5 separate regions of the Homo sapiens genome follow, and all the other regions are reported to be linked to region 1. Evidence: microRNA targets listed by miRTarBase, many of them from high-throughput screens and not tested one by one. Region 1 holds a microRNA gene; each other region holds the end of a gene's coding sequence.
What was found. The annotated mature microRNA hsa-miR-450a-1-3p reads AUUGGGAACAUUUUGCAUGUAU and lies in region 1 at 2,201-2,222, shown strand. An mRNA with a match to its seed (bases 2 to 7 or 8) in the 3' UTR can be bound and repressed. Matches are read on the target gene's strand: a 7mer-m8 pairs with bases 2 to 8, a 7mer-A1 pairs with bases 2 to 7 and ends in A, and an 8mer does both.

Region 1 (5,130 bases):
TGCTGGAGTCAGGGAGCTCAGAACACTGCAGCAACCTGCCAGTGAGAGTCTGGGTTGCTTTGAAGCCTGAGTCTCCCAAGGCAGCTCCCTCACCTGTTCCCCCATGTCCACCCCCACCTGCCATCCAGACAAGACTATTACCCTAAGACCAGACCTTCTAAAGGCGTGGCCACAGAATCATCAGTATCCCAACATCTTGCCTTTGTATCGTGTGTTTACATACTTTTCCAAATACTTTGTTTTTTCTTTTTTTTCTTTTTTTAATTTGTGACAACCTTGAAAGACAAACAGAGTTAAGGCAGTCCAAAAAATAATTACAGACAAGAAAACTGGGGCCTCTGGAGGTTAAGGATTTGTCTGAGGCTACTCTCTGGGGGCTCTTCCTCCAGGCCTCATACTGTGTTCCTTATGTCATTACCTGTTCATCAGAACCGACTATGCAGTAGTGACCAGAGCAGGAAATGGAGGTGAATGTGTTTGGTTACAAAAATTCCCGGTGAAACTGGCTAGTCTTATGATGAGCTTTGGCCTATACATTGGACACTTCCTGGGTGAGGCCCAAGATTGGCCCCAGGATTACTAAATAGTGACTATAAGTTACCCAGCCGTGTACAAGTCAATCTGCACAAACCAAAAAAGCATGATTTAAATTCATTTTAAACCTCTGTCCCATGTTTGTTATTTTCTGTAGATTCAATCAAATTATCTTAAGGAAACAAATGAAGTGTCAAGCTATAGGGGTTGACTTAATCTAGTCACTCACTCAATGGAACCTTTTTCAGCCATTGCAAATAATAATGATAGAGAATATACAGAAACCTGGAAAATGCTTATGATATCAACTTAAAAAAAATCAGGGCCACAAAATCACATGGACACCATGATTGAAAAATAGGAGCAGAACCTGGAGGAAACCTGCAAAACAGACATACTTGTTACTTAAGGGTGGTGGGATTAGAGCTGAAGTTTCTTCTTTCTCTACTTTTTCATGGTTTTGTGTGTGTGTGTGTGTGTGTGTGTGTGTGTGTGTGTGTGTGTGTGTGAGATGCCACGTTTTCTTGTTATGTTGTCAAAATATAATTCTCTAAAAAGTCTTTAGGGGTCATGGGTGATACAGAAATTTGGGATCGGTCAAGGATGCACAGATCTCAGACATCTCGGGGATCATCATGTCACGAGATACCAGTGTGCACTTGTGACAGATTGATAACTGAAAGGTCTGGGAGCCACTCATCTTCATAGCAAAACATGTGGTAAGTATTACAAGACGAATCAATGAAAAGATCAGGAGGAAAGTGGGCCCTAAGCAAAGAAGAAAGGGGTTGCTATGGGATGGGGTGGGAGGATGAGTTGTGTTTTCATAGGAGTGTAATGGGAATGCCTTTATTTGTGTCTTTATTGCTTTAAATGTTTGTTGAATGAATTGAAACTTACATAAGGTATATGATTTTATACTTGTGCTAGAATGCTAAAATAAAGAATTTATGCTCAAGCAAACAACTGGAAAACACTTTGCTATAAGCATTACAGACACAGGGTCATTTTTAGTATGTTGAGTCCACACAAGTGGTCAAGAAAAACCATAAAAACTACATGAACAGAAAGCCCCAGTTAAAAAAAATGCATAAAGATGCTCATTTCAATATTTTAAGGATGGAAGTTAGGAACATCCTGAATGACCAACAACAAAGGATTAGACAAATAAAATACAGCGTAGCTAGCTAGTACAATAGAATAGGATGCTTTCATGTAAAATAATGTTTCTGAAAGTAATTTTCATGTCATGAGAATGTGCTCCTGATAAAACATTTAGCGATTGAAAAAAGGTGCAAAATATTTTCCCATCTCTGCAATATAGGTATATAGGGAGCATTCTGTATGAATAGTTTTGTATCAACATACAGATAAAAGGCTAGGAGGAAACATATAAAAACTTTATTGTGATTATCTCTGAGTTGTGGTATAAAGGTGACCAAAGAAAGATGCTAAACTATTTTTGCGATGTGTTCCTAATATGTAATATAAATGTATTGGGGACATTTTGCATTCATAGTTTTGTATCAATAATATGGGGAAAAGAGGCTATCAGGAAGTATACCAAAAGTCTAGAGGTGGTTATCGCTGACTTGTGTCACTATAGGCAATCAAAAACGATACTAAACTGTTTTTGCGATGTGTTCCTAATATGCACTATAAATATATTGGGAACATTTTGCATGTATAGTTTTGTATCAATATACAGATGAAAAGATGGAGGGAATAAGCAAAAAATCTAACAGCGGCTATCTGTGGTTTACTTCTGTGATAAATGTAAGATGCAGAATTATTTTTGCAATATGTTCCTGAATATGTAATATAAGTGTATTGGGATCATTTTGCATCCATAGTTTTGTATCAACATATGGAGAAAAGTCTAGGAAGAAATATACCAAAACTTGTAACAGTATTATAGTATAAAATTATAGGTAATGTTTGTTTTTCTCTTTATACTTTTATGTATTTTCCAAGTAATATTTGCATAAACAATAAAATGCATTGCTTTTATAGCAATAATAAAACATTTTATTTTTAAAAAGAGTTTGTATTTTTTTTAAAGCATGAACCCCTGACATAAGGGTGGGGGAAGACTTCCTATTTGGCCAGCAGTGGGCCTAGAATACTTTTTCAAACATATCTGGGAAACCTTTGTACAACTTCAGTTGGATCTGCAGTGCAAATGTGTTTTCATTTGCTCTTGGCAAAGAAAAGAGAAAGTATAACTAAAAAATATAACCACGACAGAGTTATAATAGTAATATTAGTAAACAAACTGCTATCTATGTCTAATCAAAGTAACATTTAAAGAAGTATAGAAAGCTGAAACAGGCTCCTTTTCCTCTAGTAGCAATTCAGGAAGGTGGTACTTGGATGCTCGCCCAGGGCCTCAAGACGCATTGGCCAGTTTGAGATATGCCCAAGTCAGGAAAACACCTTATTTAGGTTATTTCCACTCAGCCAACTTCTTGCAGATGCGGGTAAAGCCCCCCCTGCATTTTCCCGCAAATTCAGCTGAGCTCCATAGTAACTCTGGTGTTGCAGAACACATGTGACACCTCAATTTAGGCGATCCTTGTTCTGGTAAGAGATGGAACCATTTGGTCACGTACCTGGCCCATGGTCTGAAGGGCACCTACCAAGGTTTTAGCGTTCCTCAGTGGCACTGATTTGGACAGAGACACATTACAGGAGGATCTAAGTTCCTTCCTATCTTTTTAGTAGCATTTTGGGAAACTGTTCCCCCACCAAGGACATATTTGGCACTCTAGCAAGTCCATATGACTAGACATTACTTTCTTTTTTTTTTTTTTTTTTTTGAGACGGAGTCTGGCTGGCTCTGTCACCCTGGCTGGAGTGCAATGGTGCGATCTCAGCTCACTGCAAGCTCTGCCTCCCAGGTTCAAGCGATTCTCCTGCCTCAGCCTCCCAAGTAGCTGGGATTACAGGTGCCCGCCACCTTGCCTGGCTAATTTTTTTGTATTTTTAGTAGAGACGGGTTTCACTGTGTTAGCCAGGATGGTCTCGATCTCCTGATCTCGTGATCTGCCCACCTTGGCCTCCCAAAGTGCTGGGATTACAGGCGTGAGCCACCGTGCCCGGCCGACATTACTTTCAAAATAGATCCATCATATTCCTTAAAGGAGAAGCTGAGTTGTGAGGCAAATATATATACACATATCCATTTACAAAGATACAGGAGACCATTCCTCCAATTTTCTGATGCCCTGCCCTTGTTCTGCTTAAGAACATACAATCATACAACCAAACTGGTCCCCATGCTTAAATGTGTGTACTCCTCTTTAAGGAGCATAAGCATTTTTATCTGCCACACTCTGTCAATCAGAGCATATTTACTGGGTGCCTACCTCTGTGCTAGTTACTTGTGGATAGAGGAGCGGGTAGGGGAGAAGCGGAGGTTAAGGTGATACTGAGCCAGAGAGGCCTTGAACACACGAATACTTTGTCTGCCACTGGGTACAGAGCAGGGATCAGCTGAGGCTTTGACCTTCGTCTGAGCCAGGTCAGACCACACAGAGAATCTGCTTTGCTAAGCAACCATCTAAGTGGCCTCCTTTCCCCTAGGGCTCACTCTAGTCCCTGCTGGACAAAATGTATGGAATAGGGGCAGAGTGTGGGAGGGACCCCTTTCTAAATGGGAGGTCTCGCCTCTAGGGCTGAGAAAGAGAGAGAGAGAGAAATCATTCCAAATTGAGCATTGATCTTAAGCCCCTTTCGTTGACCAGTGAAAAAAAAATCTTCAGCCCCTGAATTTCTTTCTATATATGTATATATAGAGAAAGACAGAGAGACAGGGTCTCACTATATCGCCCAGGCTAGTCTTGAACTCCTGGGCTCAAGCGATACTCCCACCTCAGCCTCCCAAAGTATTGGGATTACAGGCGTGAGCCCCTGCGCCCGGCTGAATTTCTGAACCAGTGAAATGTCCTAGAATTTGGCCAGTACAGAGATTGCTTCTCAGAGTTGGAAGTATGCCAAGAGGGGTTGAGGAGGGGCAGGTGCAGAAGGTGCTGAGGGCTTCCCTTTGTTAACAGGGTACAAACCCTCATTTTACACAAGTCCAGCCCCTCATTTTACAGAAGAGAAAACCAAGTTGCAGAGAGAGAAAATAAGTTGCAGAGAGGTCGTGCAGAGAATTGGGCAATGTTACAACTTGAACCTTGAGCTTCAGGGCTTTTTCCATTGTAATATACTGGGTCTAAAGGACACAGGGAGTGACTTGGAAAGACTCTATGAAGGATATGGGACTTGATGAGCACCTGCAAAAGTGGGTGGGGCTGGGCATGGTAGTGTTCACCTGTAGGCCCAGCTACGCCAGAGGCTGAGGGAGGAGGATCACTTGGGCCCAGGAGTTCCAGGCTGCAGTGCGCCATGATTATGCCTATGAATGGCCACTGCACTCCAGCCTAGTCAACAAAGCAAGGCCCTATCTCTTTAAAAAAAAAAAAAAAGATAGGTGGGGCCAGAAGAGGCAGAGAGGACAGGGGTGGACATTCCAGGCAGGGGGTAATGACATAAGCACTGGAGGAATGGATGTGGTGTCACCACAGGGCAATCTGGAGGAAATTAAGGTCA
Region 2 (5,130 bases), not on the chromosome of region 1:
TCTTGGCTCATTGCAACTTCTGCCTCCCAGGTTCAAGTGATTCTTCTGCCTCAGCCTCCCGAGTAGCTGGGATTACAAGCACATGCCACCACACCTGGCTAATTTTTATATTTTATTAGTAGAGACGGGGTTTCACCAGTTGGCCAGGCTGGTCTCGAACTCCTGACTTCAAGTGATCTGCCTGCGTTGGCCTCCCAAAGGGCTGGGATTACAGGCGTGAGTCACCCCGAGCCGAGAAGGCCACTCTCAAAGAGATGTTAGACCTTATTGGAGTCCTGGTCTCTTCAATTCTGGGCCAAGTTCTTCAGCCTCTGAGGGTGTCTTCCAGGTTGACCTGCTATAAACCTGGGCCTTTCTCTGTCTTATACTGACGTCAGAGGTCATGGAGAAGGGTGGACTTAGCAAGGTGGGGGTTGGGGGGCACATTAAGGGTTTGTACCTCTCTTTGTACGCCAACTGCCTCATGACTTAATTATCATTGGTTTGGTATTTTCCGTCAGAGTACAGGCCACACAGATTTGTTAACACGTGTGCAAAACACTATATAGGTAAAAGCAGATGCGTACGATGCCATTTCCATCAAGCACAGACAGAACTCATCTAAGCTACTACCAGTCAGGACAGCGGCTACCCCAGAGCTGGGAAGAGCACCTGGGAGAGGGGAACAGAGGCAGGCTTGGCTGCAGGTAAAGGTCTTCACGCTGATTTGGTGGCTGGTTACACAGATGTGTGGTTTACAAAAATCCATCTTGTGATATGTGCAAGCTTCTGAATGTTTTACCAAAAAGGTTTGAAAATAAGTAAATCAGCCAGGTGAGCATGGTGGTGTGCATCTGTAGTCCCAGCTACTTGGAGGCTGAGGCAGAAGAATCTCTTGAGCCCAGGAGTTCAAGGCCAGCTTGGGCAACATAGTAAGAACCTTAGAAAAAAAAGCTGAACATTGTGTATGCATTTGACTCTAGGGCAAATATATTTTTTTGAGGGGGAAAAGGCCTTAACTTCTACTTGTGTATGCACATTTACATGTGTTTTCTCAATCATCTGAGGCACTATCCCTACTTGACAGGTGACCAAGGTGGGGCTGAAGAGACTGACATATCCAAGTGGTAGAGGGGCTGGGATTGGACCTCCCAGCCACAAAGCTGCACTGCTTTTCAGAAAAAGGTTTCATAACCCAAGCACTGGGCTGCAAGACTTGGAAGGGCAGACACCTGGCTATACTCATCTGGGAGTCCTGCTGCTCAATACCAAGCCTGACTCAGAGCAGCGTTATGTCCAGCATGTTTATCCAGTGTATGGAAAAGGCTGTTGTATCCATCCTTGCTTTCTATACGTTTGCACTATTTCAAAATTAAAATATTAGCATGAAGATCCAACCACTGCAGCCCAACATCAGTGCTCTCAGCACTTTGCCCCTCAAATTGGGCCCCTCGAGAGGGCATCCTGGATGCCAGAATCCTTGAAAAGAACTAAGGAATGGCAGGAGTCCAGGGCCCCAGCAGCAGGTAACTCTGGCATGTGGCTCTGAGTTCCTGAGTCTTTCTGGTTTAAAGAGAAAGTTTCTTTTTTTTTTTTTTTGGAGACAGTCTCGGTCTGTCACCCAGGCTGGAGTACAGTGGCACGATCTCGGCTCACTGCAAACTCTGCCTCCCAGGTTCAAGCGATTCTCCTGCCTCAGCCTCCTGAGTAGCTGGGATCACAGACACGTGCCACCATGCCCAACTAATTTTTTTTTTTTTTTTTTTAGTAGAGATGGGCTTTCACCATGTTGGTCAGGCTGGTGTCGAACTCCTGACCTCATGATCCGCCTGCTTCGGCCTCCCAAAGTGCTGGGATTACAGGCAAGCCACCGCGCCCAGGCTTTTTTTTTTTTTTTTAAGACAGAGTTTCGCTCTTGTTGCCCTGTCTGGAGTGCAATGGCGTGATCTCAGCTCACTGCAACCTACACCTCCCCGGTTCAAGCAATTCTCCTGCCTCAGCCTCCCAAGTAGCTGGGATTACAAGCATGAGCCACCATGCCCAGCTAATTTTTCATATTTAGTAGAGACAAGATTTCACCATGTTGGTCAGGCTGGTCTCAAACCCGACCTCAGGTGATCCACCCACCTCGGCCTCCCAAAGTTCAGGGATTACAAGCATGAGCCACCGCACCTGGCCTAAAGTTTCTTTTCTTAGGTGAAAAGACCTGGCATCATCAGGGTCTAACTTTCCAGGTTTTGTAGGGTATGTTTAAGGCTGGGAAGAATCACAGTCCCCATGCTTTGATCTCCAGCTAAGCAGAGGGTGGGGAGGGATGTGTGCCCTTTACAGGAGGCCGAGAGGAAGCGACAAACGCCAAGTGCAATGGAGAGGGCTCTGCAATCCTATTTGGATCCCAAACCTCACTAACCCTTTTTTTTTTTTTTTTTTTTGAGACACAGTTTCACTCTTGTTGCCCAGGCTGGAGTGCAATGGTGCAATCTCGGCTCATCGCCACCTCCACCTTCCAGGTTCAAGTGATTCTCCGGCCTCAGCCTCCCGAGTAGCTGTAATTACAGGTATGCGCTACCAAGCCCGGCTAATTTTGTATTTTTAGTAGCGATGGGGTTTCTCCATATTAGTCAGGCTGGTCTCAAACTCCCAATCTCAGGTGATCCGCCTGCCTCAGCCTCCCAAAGTGCTGGGATTACAGGCGTGAGCCACTGCGCCAGGCATTAACCCTCTTTAATCTGTGTTTACCTGCCCACACCTGAGCCTGACCCCACAAACAATGTGACACAGTTTTAGCCCAGTCCCAGTTTATTGTGGAGGAAAATGGGGGACATGGAGCTGAGCAGAACAGACCCTTCCCTCTCCTCTCACAGGCCCCTAGGGAGATGGGTGTCAGGACTCAGTGAAGTGAAATGGGGCCGAGGAAGCCAGAGACTGACAAGAGAGCAAGAGAGGACAGGAGGCAGAACAACACTAGGACAGGCGGGGGTTGGTGGAGACAGTGAGGCAGGGACACAAAATTGCCAAGTCAGGACATCTGCACAGAATTCTATTCCTCATCCTTTTTTTTGGAGACGGAGTCTCACTGTGTCACCCAGGCTGGAGTGCAGTGGCGCGATCTCGGCTCACTGCAACCTCTGCCTCCCGGGTTCAAGTGATTCTCCTGTCTCAGCCTCCTGAGTAGCTGGGATTACAGAGGTGTGCCACCACACCCAGCTGATTTTTCTATTTTTAATAGAGAGCGGGTTTTACCATGTTGGCCAGGCTGGTCTCAAACTCCCAATCTCAAGTGATCCGCCCACCTCGGCCTCCCAAAGTGCTGGGATTACCGGCGTGAGCCACCATGCCCGGCCTCCTCGTCCTTCTTGCTGCTAGTTCAGTCTGGTACTGGGTCTTAGAGACATGGACAAGACAGGGGAAACAGAGCTAGATGTCAATAGGCAGGTGACTGGATTGAGAGGGATGGGGGATACTGGAACACTCAGATGATGGGGAAGGAATGGAGGAACCACTGTGCCTTTCTCAGGTCAGCCTGTCTGGGCAGAATCCACACTAGAGATTCTTTTCTAGGGGGAAGAACAGCACCAGAGCTCAGACAGGCACAGTGGCTCACACCTGTAATCCCGGCACTTTGGGAGGTCGAGGAGGGCAGATTACGAGGTCAGGAGTTCGAGACCAGCCTGACCAACATGGTGAAACCCCGTCTCTACTAAAAATACAAAAAATTAGCCAGGCGTGGTGGTGCACGCCTGTAGTCCCAGCTACTCGGGAGGCTGAGGCAGGAGAATCGCTGGAACCCGGGAGGTGGAGGTTGTAGTGAGCAGAGATCATGCCACTGCACTCCACCCTGGGTGACAGAGCGAGACTTTGTCTCAAACAAACAAAAAAACAGCACCAGAGTTCAAGAGAGAAAATTACACAAAAGTCATATAGATGCTAGTGGTACAACAGACGGAGGCCTAAGAAATCACAGTGACCAAAGAATGTGGGTGTTTTCAGAGAGGGCAGTGCAGGATGCTGAGGGTGTTACAGAAAGATATTTGCACTGTGGAATTCAGGAAGGGTGAGGTGTCAAGAGTCCAGCCTGGGGAAGAACCAAAAGTCCTGAACTATTGAGGAACAAGTACATGCGGCGCAGCTCAGCAAAAGACAAGCCCAGGTTCAGGGACAGTGTGACCATGGGGTCCAGGCCATCAGGCTCCGTCCCAGCATGGAAATTGGGGAGGGGCAGGGAGAGGTTCAGGGCCTGGTAGAACCACTGAATCTGGGAGTCAGACAGAGGCAGGGCCAGGGGCCTGTCATGGGGCTCCGGCAGAGAGCTCTGGAGTTGGGGGCTTGACCAGGAGTTGCAATAATCGTACTGACAGCACTGGGCCTGATACCAGTACTCTGCAAAGTAGGTGTTGCGTTTTTCTTGGCAGCGGTAGGAAATGTACTGTCCACAGCCTCGAACGATGAAGCGAACCTTGACATCTGAGGGAGAGGGGAAAGCTGATAACCCCTTCCAATAGCTTCCCATAGTCCAAGAACCCCTGCTACTGACTTTTCCCATCCTTCACCCAGACCTAATTTACTTCTAACCCAGAGTCCTTCAAGAGGCTAGAAAAGTGAGCTCTGCTGGCCCCCTAGAACCTTAGACCCCTCCTTCCAAGATTCTTCTGGTTTTTTTTGAGACAGGGTCTAGCTCTGTTACTCAGGCTGGAGCATGGTGGCGCAATCTTGGCTCACTGCAACCTATGCCTCCTGAGTTTAAGAGATCTCCCACCTCAGCCTCCCGAGTAGCTGGGACTACAGGTGCATACCACCATGCCTGGCTATTTTTTTGTAGAGACAGGGTCTCACTATGTTGCCTAGGCTGGTCTTGAACTCTAGAGCTTAAGTGATCCACCTGCCTCAGCCTCCCAAAGTGCTAGGGTTACAGGCATGAGCCATTGCACTCAGCCCCTCCTCTCTTCTTGTACCCCATGCCCGGAGCAGCCCTGATCTGTGAGAGGAGAGAAGACCAAGCCATTGGCTGCCCCACCAGCAGCCCCTTCCTGGGACCTTATTTACCATAATAGATGGTGATCACCATGCACAGGGATGAGCTGCTGATGGTACACTTCTCTGAGCCTGAAATGCATCCTACAGAAGGGTCTTCTACGAGGCAGAAGTGGCACG
Region 3 (5,130 bases), not on the chromosome of region 1:
ATGTGCAAGGCTCTGTTGGTGGTTACTACAAGAAAGTCTACTCTAAAAATGTCAAACTGAATGTGAACAAGTATTCAAAGTATGGAGCATAGAGAAAATATACTCACCGTGGACCTGATGAAGAATGAAGGCTTCAAGGAGGAGGCAGAGCTTCAGCTAGGCCTTGAATGATGGGTAGGCAGAATAGAGGAGGAGAGACATCCTAGATGGAGGGGGTAGAATTGCAAAACCAGGGTTGATGGTGCCAGCACATAAAGGGCTGGCAGGGTGGAGGGTCTATGATAGAGACCTATAGGAGATAAAGATAGAGTTGAAATTATGGGAGCCTCCATGTCTGTGGGAGATATAGAAGGAGGAGGTAACACCTCTCTCCTTTTGGGAGCTCTTATTGGTTTCTTGATCTATAAGTCAAGAAGGTTGTGAGTGGGAGCCACAGGGATGGTAATTTAGGCTGTAACCAACCTAGGCAGGAGTTCTGTTCTTTGTAGTCACTGAGGTCTTCTCATTCCTTAGGTCTTATTGGTCCTAAGGGAGACATCGGTGAAACCGGAGTACCCGGGGCTGAAGGTCCCCGAGGCTTTCCGGGAATCCAAGGCAGGAAAGGAGAACCTGGAGAAGGTGCCTATGTATACCGCTCAGCATTCAGTGTGGGATTGGAGACTTACGTTACTATCCCCAACATGCCCATTCGCTTTACCAAGATCTTCTACAATCAGCAAAACCACTATGATGGCTCCACTGGTAAATTCCACTGCAACATTCCTGGGCTGTACTACTTTGCCTACCACATCACAGTCTATATGAAGGATGTGAAGGTCAGCCTCTTCAAGAAGGACAAGGCTATGCTCTTCACCTATGATCAGTACCAGGAAAATAATGTGGACCAGGCCTCCGGCTCTGTGCTCCTGCATCTGGAGGTGGGCGACCAAGTCTGGCTCCAGGTGTATGGGGAAGGAGAGCGTAATGGACTCTATGCTGATAATGACAATGACTCCACCTTCACAGGCTTTCTTCTCTACCATGACACCAACTGATCACCACTAACTCAGAGCCTCCTCCAGGCCAAACAGCCCCAAAGTCAATTAAAGGCTTTCAGTACGGTTAGGAAGTTGATTATTATTTAGTTGGAGGCCTTTAGATATTATTCATTCATTTACTCATTCATTTATTCATTCATTCATCGAGTAACTTTAAAAAAATCATATGCTATGTTCCCAGTCCTGGGGAGCTTCACAAACATGACCAGATAACTGACTAGAAAGAAGTAGTTGACAGTGCTATTTTGTGCCCACTGTCTCTCCTGATGCTCATATCAATCCTATAAGGCACAGGGAACAAGCATTCTCCTGTTTTTACAGATTGTATCCTGAGGCTGAGAGAGTTAAGTGAATGTCTAAGGTCACACAGTATTAAGTGACAGTGCTAGAAATCAAACCCAGAGCTGTGGACTTTGTTCACTAGACTGTGCCCTTTTATAGAGGTACATGTTCTCTTTGGAGTGTTGGTAGGTGTCTGTTTCCCACCTCACCTGAGAGCCATTGAATTTGCCTTCCTCATGAATTAAAACCTCCCCCAAGCAGAGCTTCCTCAGAGAAAGTGGTTCTATGATGACGTCCTGTCTTGGAAGGACTACTACTCAATGGCCCCTGCACTACTCTACTTCCTCTTACCTATGTCCCTTCTCATGCCTTTCCCTCCAACGGGGAAAGCCAACTCCATCTCTAAGTGCCGAACTCATCCCTGTTCCTCAAGGCCACCTGGCCAGGAGCTTCTCTGATGTGATATCCACTTTTTTTTTTTTTGAGATGGAGTCTCACTCTGTCACCCAGGCTGGAGTACAGTGACACGACCTCGGCTCACTGCAGCCTCCTTCTCCTGGGTCCAAGCAATTATTGTGCCTCAGCCTCCCGAGTAGCTGAGACTTCAGGTGCATTCCACCACACATGGCTAATTTTTGTATTTTTAGTAGAAATGGGGTTTCGTCATGTTGGCCAGGCTGGTCTCGAACTCCTGGCCTAGGTGATCCACCCGCCTCGACCTCCCAAAGTGCTGGGATTACAGGCATGAGCCACCATGCCCAGTCGATATCTCACTTTTTATTTTGCCATGGATGAGAGTCCTGGGTGTGAGGAACACCTCCCACCAGGCTAGAGGCAACTGCCCAGGAAGGACTGTGCTTCCGTCACCTCTAAATCCCTTGCAGATCCTTGATAAATGCCTCATGAAGACCAATCTCTTGAATCCCATATCTACCCAGAATTAACTCCATTCCAGTCTCTGCATGTAATCAGTTTTATCCACAGAAACATTTTCATTTTAGGAAATCCCTGGTTTTAAGTATCAATCCTTGTTCAGCTGGACAATATGAATCTTTTCCACTGAAGTTAGGGATGACTGTGATTTTCAGAACACGTCCAGAATTTTTCATCAAGAAGGTAGCTTGAGCCTGAAATGCAAAACCCATGGAGGAATTCTGAAGCCATTGTCTCCTTGAGTACCAACAGGGTCAGGGAAGACTGGGCCTCCTGAATTTATTATTGTTCTTTAAGAATTACAGGTTGAGGTAGTTGATGGTGGTAAACATTCTCTCAGGAGACAATAACTCCAGTGATGTTCTTCAAAGATTTTAGCAAAAACAGAGTAAATAGCATTCTCTATCAATATATAAATTTAAAAAACTATCTTTTTGCTTACAGTTTTAAATTCTGAACAATTCTCTCTTATATGTGTATTGCTAATCATTAAGGTATTATTTTTTCCACATATAAAGCTTTGTCTTTTTGTTGTTGTTGTTGTTTTTAAGATGGAGTTTCCCTCTGTTGCCAGGCTAGAGTGCAGTGGCATGATCTCGGCTTACTGCAACCTTTGCCTCCCAGGTTCAAGCGATTCTTCTGCCTCAGCCTCCCGAGTAGCTGGGACCACAGGTGCCTACCACCATGCCAGGCTAATTTTTGTATTTTTAGTAAAGACAGGGTTTCACCATATTGGCCAGGCTGGTCTCGAACTCCTGACCTTGTGATCTGCCCGCCTCCATTTTTGTTGTTATTTTTTGAGAAAGATAGATATGAGGTTTAGAGAGGGATGAAGAGGTGAGAGTAAGCCTTGTGTTAGTCAGAACTCTGTGTTGTGAATGTCATTCACAACAGAAAACCCAAAATATTATGCAAACTACTGTAAGCAAGAAAAATAAAGGAAAAATGGAAACATTTATTCCTTTGCATAATAGAAATTACCAGAGTTGTTCTGTCTTTAGATAAGGTTTGAACCAAAGCTCAAAACAATCAAGACCCTTTTCTGTATGTCCTTCTGTTCTGCCTTCCGCAGTGTAGGCTTTACCCTCAGGTGCTACACAGTATAGTTCTAGGGTTTCCCTCCCGATATCAAAAAGACTGTGGCCTGCCCAGCTCTCGTATCCCCAAGCCACACCATCTGGCTAAATGGACATCATGTTTTCTGGTGATGCCCAAAGAGGAGAGAGGAAGCTCTCTTTCCCAGATGCCCCAGCAAGTGTAACCTTGCATCTCATTGCTCTGGCTGAGTTGTGTGCCTGTTTCTGACCAATCACTGAGTCAGGAGGATGAAATATTCATATTGACTTAATTGCAGCTTAAGTTAGGGGTATGTAGAGGTATTTTCCCTAAAGCAAAATTGGGACACTGTTATCAGAAATAGGAGAGTGGATGATAGATGCAAAATAATACCTGTCCACAACAAACTCTTAATGCTGTGTTTGAGCTTTCATGAGTTTCCCAGAGAGACATAGCTGGAAAATTCCTATTGATTTTCTCTAAAATTTCAACAAGTAGCTAAAGTCTGGCTATGCTCACAGTCTCACATCTGGTTGGGGTGGGCTCCTTACAGAACACGCTTTCACAGTTACCCTAAACTCTCTGGGGCAGGGTTATTCCTTTGTGGAACCAGAGGCACAGAGAGAGTCAACTGAGGCCAAAAGAGGCCTGAGAGAAACTGAGGTCAAGATTTCAGGATTAATGGTCCTGTGATGCTTTGAAGTACAATTGTGGATTTGTCCAATTCTCTTTAGTTCTGTCAGCTTTTGCTTCATATATTTTAGCGCTCTATTATTAGATATATACATGTTTAGTATTATGTCTTATTGGTGCATTTACTCTCTTATCATTATGTAATGTCCTTCTTTATCTGTGATAATTTTCTGTGTTCTGAAGTCTACTTTGTCTAAAAATAACATACGCACTCAACTTCCTTTTCTTTCTTCCTTCCTTTCTTTCTTCCTTCCTTTCTTTCTCTCTCTCTCTCTTTCCTTCCTTCCTTCCTCCTTTTCTTTCTCTCTCTCTCTCTCTCTCTTTTTTTGACAGACTCTCGTTCTGTGGCCCTGGCTGGAGTTCAGTGGTGTGATCTTGGCTCACTGCTACCTCTACCATGAGCAATTCTCCTGCCTCAGCCTCCCAAGTAGCTGGAACTACAGGCTCATGCCACTGCGCCCAGCTAATTTTTGTATTTTTCGTAGAGACGGGGTTTCACCACATTCGTCAGGTTGGTTTCAAACTCCTGACTTTGTGATCCACCCGCCTCGGCCTCCCAAAGTGCTGGGATTACAGGCATGAGCCATCACACCTGGTCAACTTTCTTTTGATTAGTGTTTTTGTGGTATATCTTTTTCCATCATGTTACTTTAAATATATCTATATTATTGTATTTAAAATGTGTTTCTTACAGACTGCATGTAGTTGGGTATAATTTTTATCCAGTCTAAAAATATCTGTCTTTTAATTGGTGTTTAGACAATTTATATTTAATAAAATTGTTGAATTTAAGATGGATGACTGTTTTATTTGTTTGCTGTTCACCACTTCTGTTTTATTCTCTTTCCAGAATTCTTTTGGATTGTTTAAATATTTCATAATATTTTATCTTAATTTATTTATTGGGTATTTGCCTATATCTCTTTGTGGTATTTTTTAGTGGTTGCTTGAGGGATTACAATGTACTTAACTTTTCACAGTGTGCATAAAGTTAATATTTTGCCACTTGCAGTAAACCGTAGAAGGCTTATAATCATATTAGTACCTCTATCCACTTTCTTTTATGTTGTAGTTGTCATATATATTACATCTATATACACTGAAACATTATAGGCAATGTTATGATTTT
Region 4 (5,130 bases), not on the chromosome of region 1:
GTTCTTTGGGATCTGATGGATTTTGCCTCCTGTAACTGCTCCTTGGATGTCATTTAATTTGCCTAGGCTTGCCATCTCCTCCTGTGGTACATCTGTAGTCTACAACACAGCCTGGGAAATGGTACCTCTTGCTGTCTTCTTACTGGTTCTGACTCAGGTGAAGGTGTTTGATTATTGTGGCTTAGCTTGGTTCTGACCCATTCCTGATTCTCTCATATTGTTTAGGCAGTTTGGAATTGATCCATTGGATTGGGTGTCTTTCTGAAGAGGATTTTGACATCTACTTTGTTCAAGGATAGAGAGGGATTCCTAGGTTCCCTCTAAATCAGAGAGATCTTTTGGAAGTCATCCCTGGTTTTAAATGAAAATTAGACCTGCTTTGGGACTTGGAAATAGTTTTTCAGAAGGATTGTTTCTTTTTTTCCTCATTGTCTTTAAGACTTTCTTCTAGAAATGGATGCCAGAATATTTTGTTCTTTTTTGTTTTTCTTGCTAGTTTTAGGCCCAACATTAGAATTTAAAGTAGGGAAGGGAGCAAGGTAGGAGACTATTATTTCTTCAGCCCTTTTATGTGTCAGAAACTGTGTCAGATATTCTCATGTAATCATCAGAGCAACCTTAATGGTAGGTGTTATCTTTTGTAATGATGAGATAAAAAGACTTGGACACACTAAGTAGATTACCCAAGGCCACAAGTAGAATGATGATAGGAGTCAGAATTGGAACTAAAACTTATTTGACCTCCTGCTCTTATATCAAACTATCTCTGTTAAAAGTGAGTGACTGTGAAGGACTGATGACTGGGAAGAGCTACCTACTGTCTGAAGTAATGAATTAGCTGCGTATGTTTCTTTTCCTTGCAGGACAGTGTGATGGTCCTTAGCGCAACCCATCGCTACAAGAAGAAGTATGTTACTACTCTGCTATACAAGCCCATTTGAAGGGATCCCTTCTTGCCTCTAAGGATTCAGGAGAAGCATCTCCCTTGCATTTCTGGACTGAACCAGTCTTACCTGAGACTGGAAGGCTGATTTGCTTTGAGGCTGATATGTGTGTTTCAGAGCCTCTGAGTAGGATGCTCTGCTTTTGCATTTGATTGCAGATGAGAGCTTTATGAGTTCACGGAATTTATTTTAAGAAAAAAAAATATACATATGAGAAGAAGGTAAATGGAAGCCTCCTAGCCCCAGCTAGAAGTATTGTTTCTGCCTGTGGGTTTTCACCAAGACCTGTTTGGGGGCGCTGCAGGAATAACTATATAGGAAGATTTTTCCTAAAATGAAAGAACAGCAAACTCTTAGGATCCTTGTTGGGTGGAGATTCTATCACTGCTACCTTGGCTCTCCAAGGAATGGGCTTGTGCTAGACCGCTGCCCTACTTAACAGCTGCCTCATTGCAAGGGCAGTTTTTCTTGCATGGGTTCTCTATATTCCCAGAGTATGTGGCACAATCTGTGTTGTTTATATGATACCAGATGCCCCACAAGAACCCTTATTCCTCTCATTTCACATTCTTCCTTTAATAGCCTCCTTCAGATCCCATACCTGACCCCTCTCTAACACAAAACTTATTGGGTAAGTGACTTTGAAAAGTTTTGTGGCACCTGACCCACCCCAGACACTAGGGCTATCAGAAGGTCTCCTTTTTAGCCCAGCACAGGCCCAGGCCACTTTGTCGTGTTTGTTTTAACTTCTAAAGAAAATATGTTTCAGCATTATAAGAAAGGCAGAATGCAGAACACCTACATTTTTGTTTTAGTTTGGTGCCAAGGCTCAGGCTGTATTGGCAAATTCCCGAAAGTTTTCCCACTTTGCCTGGCCCTGCTTCTGTCTTTTCTTTCTCAGTAAACAGTTCTGAAGGCAGGAGTGGAACCCGGGAGTATTTTCATGTCTTTCATCCTTGAAAGATTTTTATGTGCCTGCATTTTTTTTTTAATTAAAAAATGCCTTTTCATTGGTCTTAAGAGACCGCATTGGAGAATTTCAGGCTTTTGATAAATGCTTCTTCAAAGAGATTTTCTTCTCTAGTCTAGCCTTCCACATTCTTAGATTAATATGGCCAACCCTGTACACATCACTACACTAAACACTGCTCTAGATAAACTGCTCAAGTTCATTTAACTCATTTGATGCACCTAAAGGGGTTCCTCATTTTAAAGATTTGTTAGGCCAAGAAGCAAGAGAGTATTCCTAGTATTCCCAACCATGAAAAGTATCATTCTTTGCACCAAATGTTAACAAAATCATTTTGTTCTCCTGCCTCTTCTTTTTAAAGGTGTTTGATGATTAAGTGGGGTCACTGAATTCCATTTGTGGACTGAAAAGTATTCAATCCACTTTTGGGGTTCAGAGATAAAACATTTTTTCCCAAGTAGCTGGGGCTCTTCCATTTTGCAGATAAGTCAAATAATCAACACTAAAGGAGGCTAAACTGTTGATGAATGAGAGACTCCCTGACTGCTCAGATGACCCTAGCCACACTGAAAGGGCACCTACAGGTCAGTTTAGCTACCTCCTGTCTTTCCCATGCAAAGCTGATAACACAGTTGTCTTTGGACTTGTAGACCTCTTGGATTCCAGGTGTGATGGAGTAAAGTGTGGGATTGTTGTTTTGCTGGGATGCAAATAACTAAATGCTTTGGTGGTTAATTGCTAAGAGTAAATACTACTTTAGCCATCCAAGGCCACCTTCTGCAGCAAAAGGCTTTTGTGGAGAACCTTTTATGTTCCCAACCACTTTTTGAATGGTGTGCCATTTAAAAATCCAGGCCAGATCCTATTATAACCAACTCTCAGGATTTACAGCCTTCAGTTGTACTAGAATTTTGTTTTTATCCAATACTCATTAAATAAGTGGGCCACTTAGGAAGATTCAAAATCTTGGTTATTACATGAAGTTTGTTATATTTCTTGTCAACAGTATTGAAATGTAATATGTATGTGTTCATGTATGAAAATTTTTACTCCACACAGGTGTTTCAGTAGAGTGGGGCAGGAAAAGAGATCTCTTCGATTTCTTTCAGGCCTGAGGCTTTTGTGAAATGCGTCAGCCCCCTGTGACAGTAGGTTTTGATGCTAGTGATCTTCAGATCTTTCTCTCTGGAAATGTGCAGAGAGTGTCAGTTTCCCAAGTTCTGAGGTAACTCTCAGCCCAGATGTGAAATGGGAGCCTACCAGCTGGTATAGAAGGGAATGGGTAGGAGGCACTGGGTGCTGACTCATTCAGCACTGTCCCTTTTCTATACTGCTGATACATCCCATGGTTCTGAGAAGCCTTATCTCAGTCTATTTGGAAGAGAGGGAGGAAGAGAAGGAAGTAACCCAAAGTACTACTCATTTATCATTGTATATTGATTAGTTAAAGGGATAATTAATTTAATGCTGAGGAGAGTTTGACAGATTTTGAAAATGAGTAAAGGCAAAAAAAATTTTTTTAGCCTTTATTTTGCTTTTGGGAATTTTACAGAGTCAAAGTAGGCAGAATAAGAAAATAGTTCTTCAGGAGGGCCGACCTTTAAAGAACTTCAACATAGTTTCGGAATTGTGGGGAAGAGAAGAGTGACTGAGCTGAGAAGTAATAATAGAATAAAGGGTTGAGTAACTTACAACTGAAAATGATCTCTTTTAAAAAGAAATTAAATCAGACACCACATGGTGGTGTCCTTGGATCTCACTGTACAGAATTAGCAGTGTATAACCATCTTCTCTTTTCATCTTGTTCCAATTCTCTCCTCTTTCCTTTCCATTCTGCTTTAAGCTCATGTGTCAGGCAGACTTTACCAGAGTGTCAGACATTACCTAAAACACATACGTTAGCCATGCTGCTGGTATGGAGAAATTCCACACCATGATTATTAGCCTCCTTTAAGCTGAATGGGATTTAACCATTCTAGGCAACACCCCTGAAGGGCATACCTAACCTCAATAGTGTTGGCTTTTAAAACGTATGTTTGTATGGTAGAGAAACTTTGTAAAAGAAGAATCCAAGAGAAGTTTGTGAGGATCCTACAAACCCAGGCCCACTCACTTTGCTCTAATTCTTTCTAGTATCTTGTAGATCTAATGGGTCTGGGATAAAAACTTTGAAAAGTGTCAATATTCCATGTATGCTGCTGAAATGAAGTTAAGTTTGGAAAGAAGTGATACCTCTAGACTGGGTTTATATTAATCTGGGATATAAATGAAGAAGACATACTAATAGAACTCCTTGCTTTTAATTGGGGAAATAGGGCTTTAATAATTTTGACCTCAACTAAAAATGATATGCAATAGTCTCTGTGTGTGTTTGAAATACATTGTGTTCTCAGAGATTTCTACATTCTCACGTTCTAGTGATTTGGGGCATGGGCTTAATAGCAGATGTACAGTGTATTCCTGCATTATTGTGATTCCCCTTAAAGCCCAGTTCTTGCTGTCTTCTACCAGGGGCTGCTGACTCCAGTTACCCATGGAATGCAGGACCTGGGAGGGGTAGCCATTAGGGTCTTTCAAAACTCTTTGGATCTAAGCATTTGTCTCTCCTTAAGTGCCAATCACAATTGGATATGGAAGGACTGTGATTTCTGCAATGAACCCAAACTTTTAGAGTAAAAAGCCAAATTTAAATTATAAGAAAGAAGGGAAAAAAGAGAAAAACTCAAGTCTATTACTTGTAGAGTCCAATTCTTAGCAATGGAATCGCTCTAGGATTCTAGTTTGGGCTTTGTCTGGATTTGCTTTTCTCAGTTGTGCTTTGAAGTGAATAAGCTTTGTTACAAATTAATTTTTTATTAGTTCCAATATTAGTTGGAGTTAACTTGAATTGATTGTATGTAGCACAGCACTTTTGCAGTAAGATTGGTGTGAAATACTAAACACTATGGATTTTGTAGGTGTCAGGTTAAATGGTCAAGGGATACCTACATTAAGTCATATATTAGGTATTGATGATCTTACTTCTTTTCTGTTCCCCTGTACAAAACACTTACCTAACCCAGCTTGTGGTTTTAGGACAGCCAAAGCTCACTGTTGTTGGTTAGTCCTAATCACTACACGGGTCTCATAAATGAGACTTGTTTGAATTTTGGTACATTGGAGCATGTTGGTTGGTATTACACGGCAGCATTTCGAATGAGTGCAGCTCTGTGTCTG
Region 5 (5,000 bases), not on the chromosome of region 1:
TTACTGAGATACCAAATAAAAAATTTTAATTTAATTTTTCAATGTCAGGTCTACTTATTATTATTAATTTTTTTGAGATGGAGTCTCACTATGTTGCCCAGGGTGGTCTTAAACTCCTGGGCTCAAGCGATCCTCCCTCCTCAGCCTCCCAAAGTGGTGGGATTCCAGGAACAAGCCAAGGTGCCCAACCAGGCCCACTTATTTTTTTCTTCTGTTGTTTGTTCCTTTTAATTATAAATGCACATTTAGTAATCCATTCACATTGCCAAAAATATAAAACTATCATAATGGTTGCATGGCAAATCTCCAGCTCCTTATTCTTCAATGCGAATTTATTTCCCAAGAGGTTAAATGCTTTTTTGTAAAAGTCGTATTTTAATTTACTGGTGGGTTATTCATTTGGTGCAAGCATCAAACACCATGAGAATGTGATGTCTCCCTCCCATTTCCCATTACTCCACAGTAGGCAATCATTGGTATGAGTTTCAGTTGTTTATTTATTTGTTTGATTGTTGGTTTGTTTGTTCAAGACAGGGTCTCACTCTGTCATCAGGGCTGGAGTGCAGTGGCATGATCTCAGCTCACTGCAACCTCCACCTCCTGGGCTCAAGCGATCCTCCCTTCTCATCCCCTCAAGTAGCTGGGAGTCCAGGTGCAAGCCACCATGCCCAGCTAATTTTTGTATTTTTTGTAGAGACAGGGTTTTGCCATGTTGCCTAGGCTGGTTTTGAACTCCTGAACTCAAGCAATCCACCTACCTCAGCCTCCCAAAGTGCCAGGATTACAGGCATGAGCCACCGTGCCAGGCCTCATTTGTCTTTTTAGAAAAGTTATACGCATATATAAGCCAATACAGATATTTTTGTCCTTTTTATACAAATGCTGAGTTGCTGCGTTCATTATTATTTTGGTGCTTGACTTTTTTCCACTTGATAGTAGAGCTCTTAGAGTTCTGTGTCACTAAAGATCTTCCTCATTTTTTAGCAGTTAATTTTGTTATAGGTGAATATGTGAAGGAATCATAATGCATTTTTTAATCCACTTTGGGTCTCACTCTGTCGCTCAGGCTGGAGTGCAGTGGCACAATCTCAACTCACTGCAACCTCTGCCTCCTGGGTTTAAGTGACTCTTATGCTTCAGCCACCGAGTGGCTGGGATTACAGGCATGGACCACACCCGGCTAATTTTGTTGTTTTTAGTACATACAGGGTTTCATCATGTTGCCCAGGCTTGCCTCCAATTCCTGGCCTCATGTGATCTGACCGCCTCAGCCTCCCAAAGTGTTGGGATTACAGGCGTGAGCCACTGCACCTGGCCTCCTTTCCAATTTCTGACCTCTGATTTTTCTTGTTTGTCTAATTGTGATGCCTAATGCCTCCAGAATAATAAGTTAAAAAAGAAGGATAATAGACTGGGTGTGAGGTGGCTGAAGCCTGTAATCCCAACACTTTGGGAGACCGAGACGGGCGGATCACCTGAGACCAGGAGTTTGAAACCAGCCTGACCAACATGGTGAAACCCCGTCTCTACTAAATATACAAAAATCAGCCGGGCATGGTGGTGCACGCCTGTAATCCCAGCTACTCGGGAGGCTGAGGCAGGAGAATTGCTTGAACCCGGGAGGCGGAGGTTGCAGTGAGCTGACATTGCGTCATTGCACTCCAGCCTGGGTGACAGAGCAAGATTCTATCAAAAAAAAAAAAAAAAAAAAAAAAAGAAGAAGAAGAAAAAGAATAGCGGCCATTCCTTCCTTGCCTTTAATGTAAGTAGGAATGTTATTAGTTTTCTCCACTAAGTGAGTGCATTGATTCTTGGGCTGGATCTTAGTCCAGTGAAGAATTTCGGGATTTGGAGAGGAGTATACTTGAGAAACATATTAGTCCATTATCACATTGCTATAAAGAAACACCTGAGACTAGATAGTTTGTAAGAAAAGGGGTTTAATTAGCTCACAGGCTATATAGGAAGCGTGGCAACATCTGCTTCTAGGGAGTCCTCGGGGAATTTTTACTCATGGCAGAAGGCAAAGTGGGAGCAGGCATCTTCACGTGGCCAAAGCAGGAGAAAGAGAGAGTGGGGAGGTGCTACACACTTTTAAACTACCAGATCTCACGATAACTCACTGTCATGAGACCAGCACTGAGGGGACGGTGCCAAACCATTCATGAAGGCTTCACACCCATGATCCAGTCGCCTCCCAGCCGGCCCCACCTCTAACATTGGGGATTACACTTCAACGTGAGATTTGGTGGGGACACAGATCCAAACCATATCAAAATCCAATTAAAAATTTTTTTGTTTGTTTTAGACACAGGGTCTTGCTATATTGGCCAAGATGGTCTCATACCCCTACCCTCAAATTAACCTCTCACTTCAGCCTCCCAAAATGCTGGGATTACAGGTGTGAGCCACAGCTTCCAGCCTTAATATAAATCTTGACTCAGCATTCTTTATTCTCACTGTCAGACTGCTCAATGCATCCCTTATTGAAGTTTCTTGAAGTTTCGAAAAACAGGTATGTTCAGATAATTTTCAGCAGAATTCATCAAAAAATGTTAACAACTCTTTAAAATTTTTACACATTTTATTTAGCACAATTGCTACCATTTAAAAATCAGGTGTTTTGGCCAGGCATGGTGGCTCACGCCTGTAATCTCAGCTCTTTGGGAGGCCGAGGCAGACAGATCACCTGAAGTCAGGAGTTTGAGACCAGCCTGGCCAACATTGTGAAACCCCATCTCCACTAAAAATACAAAAATTAGCCAGGCGTGGTGGTGTGCACCCATAGTCCCAGCTACTTGGGAGGCTGAGGTAGGAGAATGGCTTGAACTCAGGAGGTGAAGTTTGCAGTGAGCCAAGATCACGCCATTGCATTCCAGCCTGGGTGAGAGAGCGAGACTGTCTCAAAAACCAAAACAAAACAAAATCAGGTGTTTTATTCCACTCCCCCCATCAGTGTTTTCTTATTTCTAATACTTCTAGAAACCTCCTTTAAGTTTTCCTATTTTAGACAGACACCACACAGGTGCTCTTTTTTGGGAGGAGGGGGATGAGAGTCTTACTCTGTTGCCCAGGCTGGAGTGCAATGGTGCAATCATAGCTCACTGTAGCCTCTGACTCCTGTGCTCAACCCATCCTCCCACCATGGCCTCCCAAGTAGCTGAGACTACAGGCACACACCACGCTGCCCAGCTAATTTTTTAATTTTTTAGTAGAGTCAGGTGTCACTGTGTTGCCCAGGCTGGTCTTGAACCTCTGGCCTCAAGCAAAACTCCCACCTTGGCCTCCCAAATTGCTCGGATTACAGGAGTGAGCCACTGCACCTGGCCCATAGATGCATTAACACCTGTCTATGGTGGTGGAGAGAAGGCTCACTGCCTCTCCCAGGCCACTGGGAAATGACCTTGTGTATTCTGCAAATACACAAGAGGATCTGAAGCTATTCTTGAGGGAGACTTTCAACAGCAAAACTCAGAGCACAAAATGGAAAATAATCATAAAAAAATTAAATAATAATACTATCAAATCATAACGTGAATAATGCTGTTATTAGAGTTGAAGAGAAGCCCTTAGAAATGGGACAAACATTGTAATTCTCTTAGAGAACTGTAACTTAAACAGAAATACACTTAATAGAAGAGGAAAGAAAATGGTTCATGTGACACAAAGGTCCCATGTGTTGACTTCTTTGGTAAGATCAAATAAGTATTTAAGCCTAGCAATAGGGTCAGTCCAGTTAGTATTTCTCCTCACAAATGGTGAATATCAACTCCAGGATGGCTGGAGTTTTCTCATGGTTTGGTTCCACGCCATCTGCATGTCTTTACAAGTGATAAAAACCAGAATTTTCCAGCTGCTACTAGTCACAGGGGGTCCCCAATATGGGTTGTTTAATTATGATGACGGGTCCTGTCAATTGCATCCAGTAAAATTGGTCACATAGAGAACTCATCTAAAACTGAGGTTTTGTTGTGGTTTTGAAAGGTCCATTGGAATCCAGATTTGCAAAGCATGTCAAGTTATGGCAAAACATATGCCACCCATCTCAAAATCTTTCCTTATTATTGCATAACTTTGAAAGCCACTGTTGCGTTTGTTGCGATGAGGTTAGAGTTTTGTTGACATGATGATATTACTCTCTTCCTCTGGGTGAGACACATCTGGATTCTCACTTGGAGCAGGGCTCTGTACATCCTTCTGGGATTTGGTTGAGTAGGTAATATACATGCTTCTCATTAGGAAAATTCCAGCAATTACTGCAAAATAGCTCCCATAAACTAAAAACTGGAGAAAAACAAATAATTAGCCACATATAAAATATGACCATCTATGTCAATGATAATACATCCTAATACTGTTGGTTTGCTTGGATTATGGGGTAACTGAGACCCAGGTTTTTAATATGGGTCATTTAGGTTGAACAATACTCTCCTATCAAGTAAGAAATCAAGATCAAGTAAGAAGGTGTAAGCAATACGGTGACTAAGAGTCTTGGCTTTAGAGCAGGTTGCTTGGGTTAAAATCATAGTTACTATCATCAATAGTAAAAAACAAAACAAAACAAACCCAAAAAAACACTAAAACTCATTGACCTGTCTCTATGTCTTTGTTTGGAGGCTGGTGCAATGCTACATTCAATGTCTCCAAGAATAAATTTAAGCATTGAGGTTACTTCTTACCTGCCTTATCCATGTAAATGTTGTCCTAGTTGCAATTATTGCTCAAAACCTACTTGGTGTGTTATAATATGATAATGAAGGAATTATGTATTTTTTAATTGCTTAACCAAGGAACTCAAGAAATTTAAATATTGCTTGTTGTAAGGTTGAGAAATTTTTGAGGTTACCTAGTTGAAAACAGAAGTATTGCAGCTTACCTGAATGCTGACTGGCAAGTTGAGCCCTCTCTGATCTACTACAATCACAGTCATGATGGTCTGAATCACCAAGGCAATAAAGGTGTTGATTCCAAATACCAAGGCATAGCGTTCCACATTCAGA

Region 2: miRTarBase lists LY6G5B as a target of hsa-miR-450a-1-3p. Seed matches in the 3' UTR shown: 7mer-A1 at 3,601-3,607.
Region 3: the mRNA of ADIPOQ is a reported target of hsa-miR-450a-1-3p. Seed matches in the 3' UTR shown: 7mer-A1 at 2,040-2,046 and 7mer-A1 at 4,556-4,562.
Region 4: miRTarBase lists PRKAB2 as a target of hsa-miR-450a-1-3p. Seed matches in the 3' UTR shown: 7mer-m8 at 2,197-2,203, 7mer-m8 at 2,365-2,371, 7mer-m8 at 2,727-2,733 and 7mer-m8 at 3,125-3,131.
Region 5: the mRNA of SLC19A3 is a reported target of hsa-miR-450a-1-3p. Seed matches in the 3' UTR shown: 7mer-A1 at 3,035-3,041, 7mer-A1 at 2,663-2,669 and 7mer-A1 at 1,449-1,455.

What each region holds. Positions count from the first base shown.
Region 1 is chrX:134,537,450-134,542,579 of GRCh38, reverse strand. It overlaps MIR450A1 (microRNA 450a-1), which reads left to right and starts at 2,149; the gene lies at 2,149-2,239. It overlaps MIR450B (microRNA 450b), which reads left to right and starts at 2,318; the gene lies at 2,318-2,395. It overlaps MIR450A2 (microRNA 450a-2), which reads left to right and starts at 1,973; the gene lies at 1,973-2,072. It overlaps MIR542 (microRNA 542), which reads left to right and starts at 1,143; the gene lies at 1,143-1,239.
Region 2 is chr6:31,671,177-31,676,306 of GRCh38, reverse strand. It overlaps LY6G5B (lymphocyte antigen 6 family member G5B), which reads right to left. Exons shown (of 3, transcript NM_021221.3): 2 at 5,023-5,130; 3 at 2,761-4,443. The coding sequence ends at 4,025. Among named protein-coding and RNA genes, the nearest start is that of LY6G5B, 3.8 kb to the right of the region's middle.
Region 3 is chr3:186,853,671-186,858,800 of GRCh38, forward strand. ADIPOQ (adiponectin, C1Q and collagen domain containing) reads left to right here. Exons shown (of 3, transcript NM_004797.4): 3 at 514-4,793. The coding sequence ends at 1,034. ADIPOQ-AS1 (ADIPOQ antisense RNA 1) reads right to left here. Exons shown (of 4, transcript NR_046662.2): 2 at 463-2,446; 3 at 108-202. Among named protein-coding and RNA genes, the nearest start is that of ADIPOQ-AS1, 5.1 kb to the right of the region's middle.
Region 4 is chr1:147,155,376-147,160,505 of GRCh38, reverse strand. It overlaps PRKAB2 (protein kinase AMP-activated non-catalytic subunit beta 2), which reads left to right. Exons shown (of 8, transcript NM_005399.5): 8 at 864-5,130. The coding sequence ends at 941. Among named protein-coding and RNA genes, the nearest start is that of PRKAB2, 15 kb to the left of the region's middle.
Region 5 is chr2:227,683,290-227,688,289 of GRCh38, forward strand. It overlaps SLC19A3 (solute carrier family 19 member 3), which reads right to left. Exons shown (of 6, transcript NM_025243.4): 5 at 4,877-5,000; 6 at 474-4,284. The coding sequence ends at 4,108. Among named protein-coding and RNA genes, the nearest start is that of SCYGR5, 19 kb to the left of the region's middle.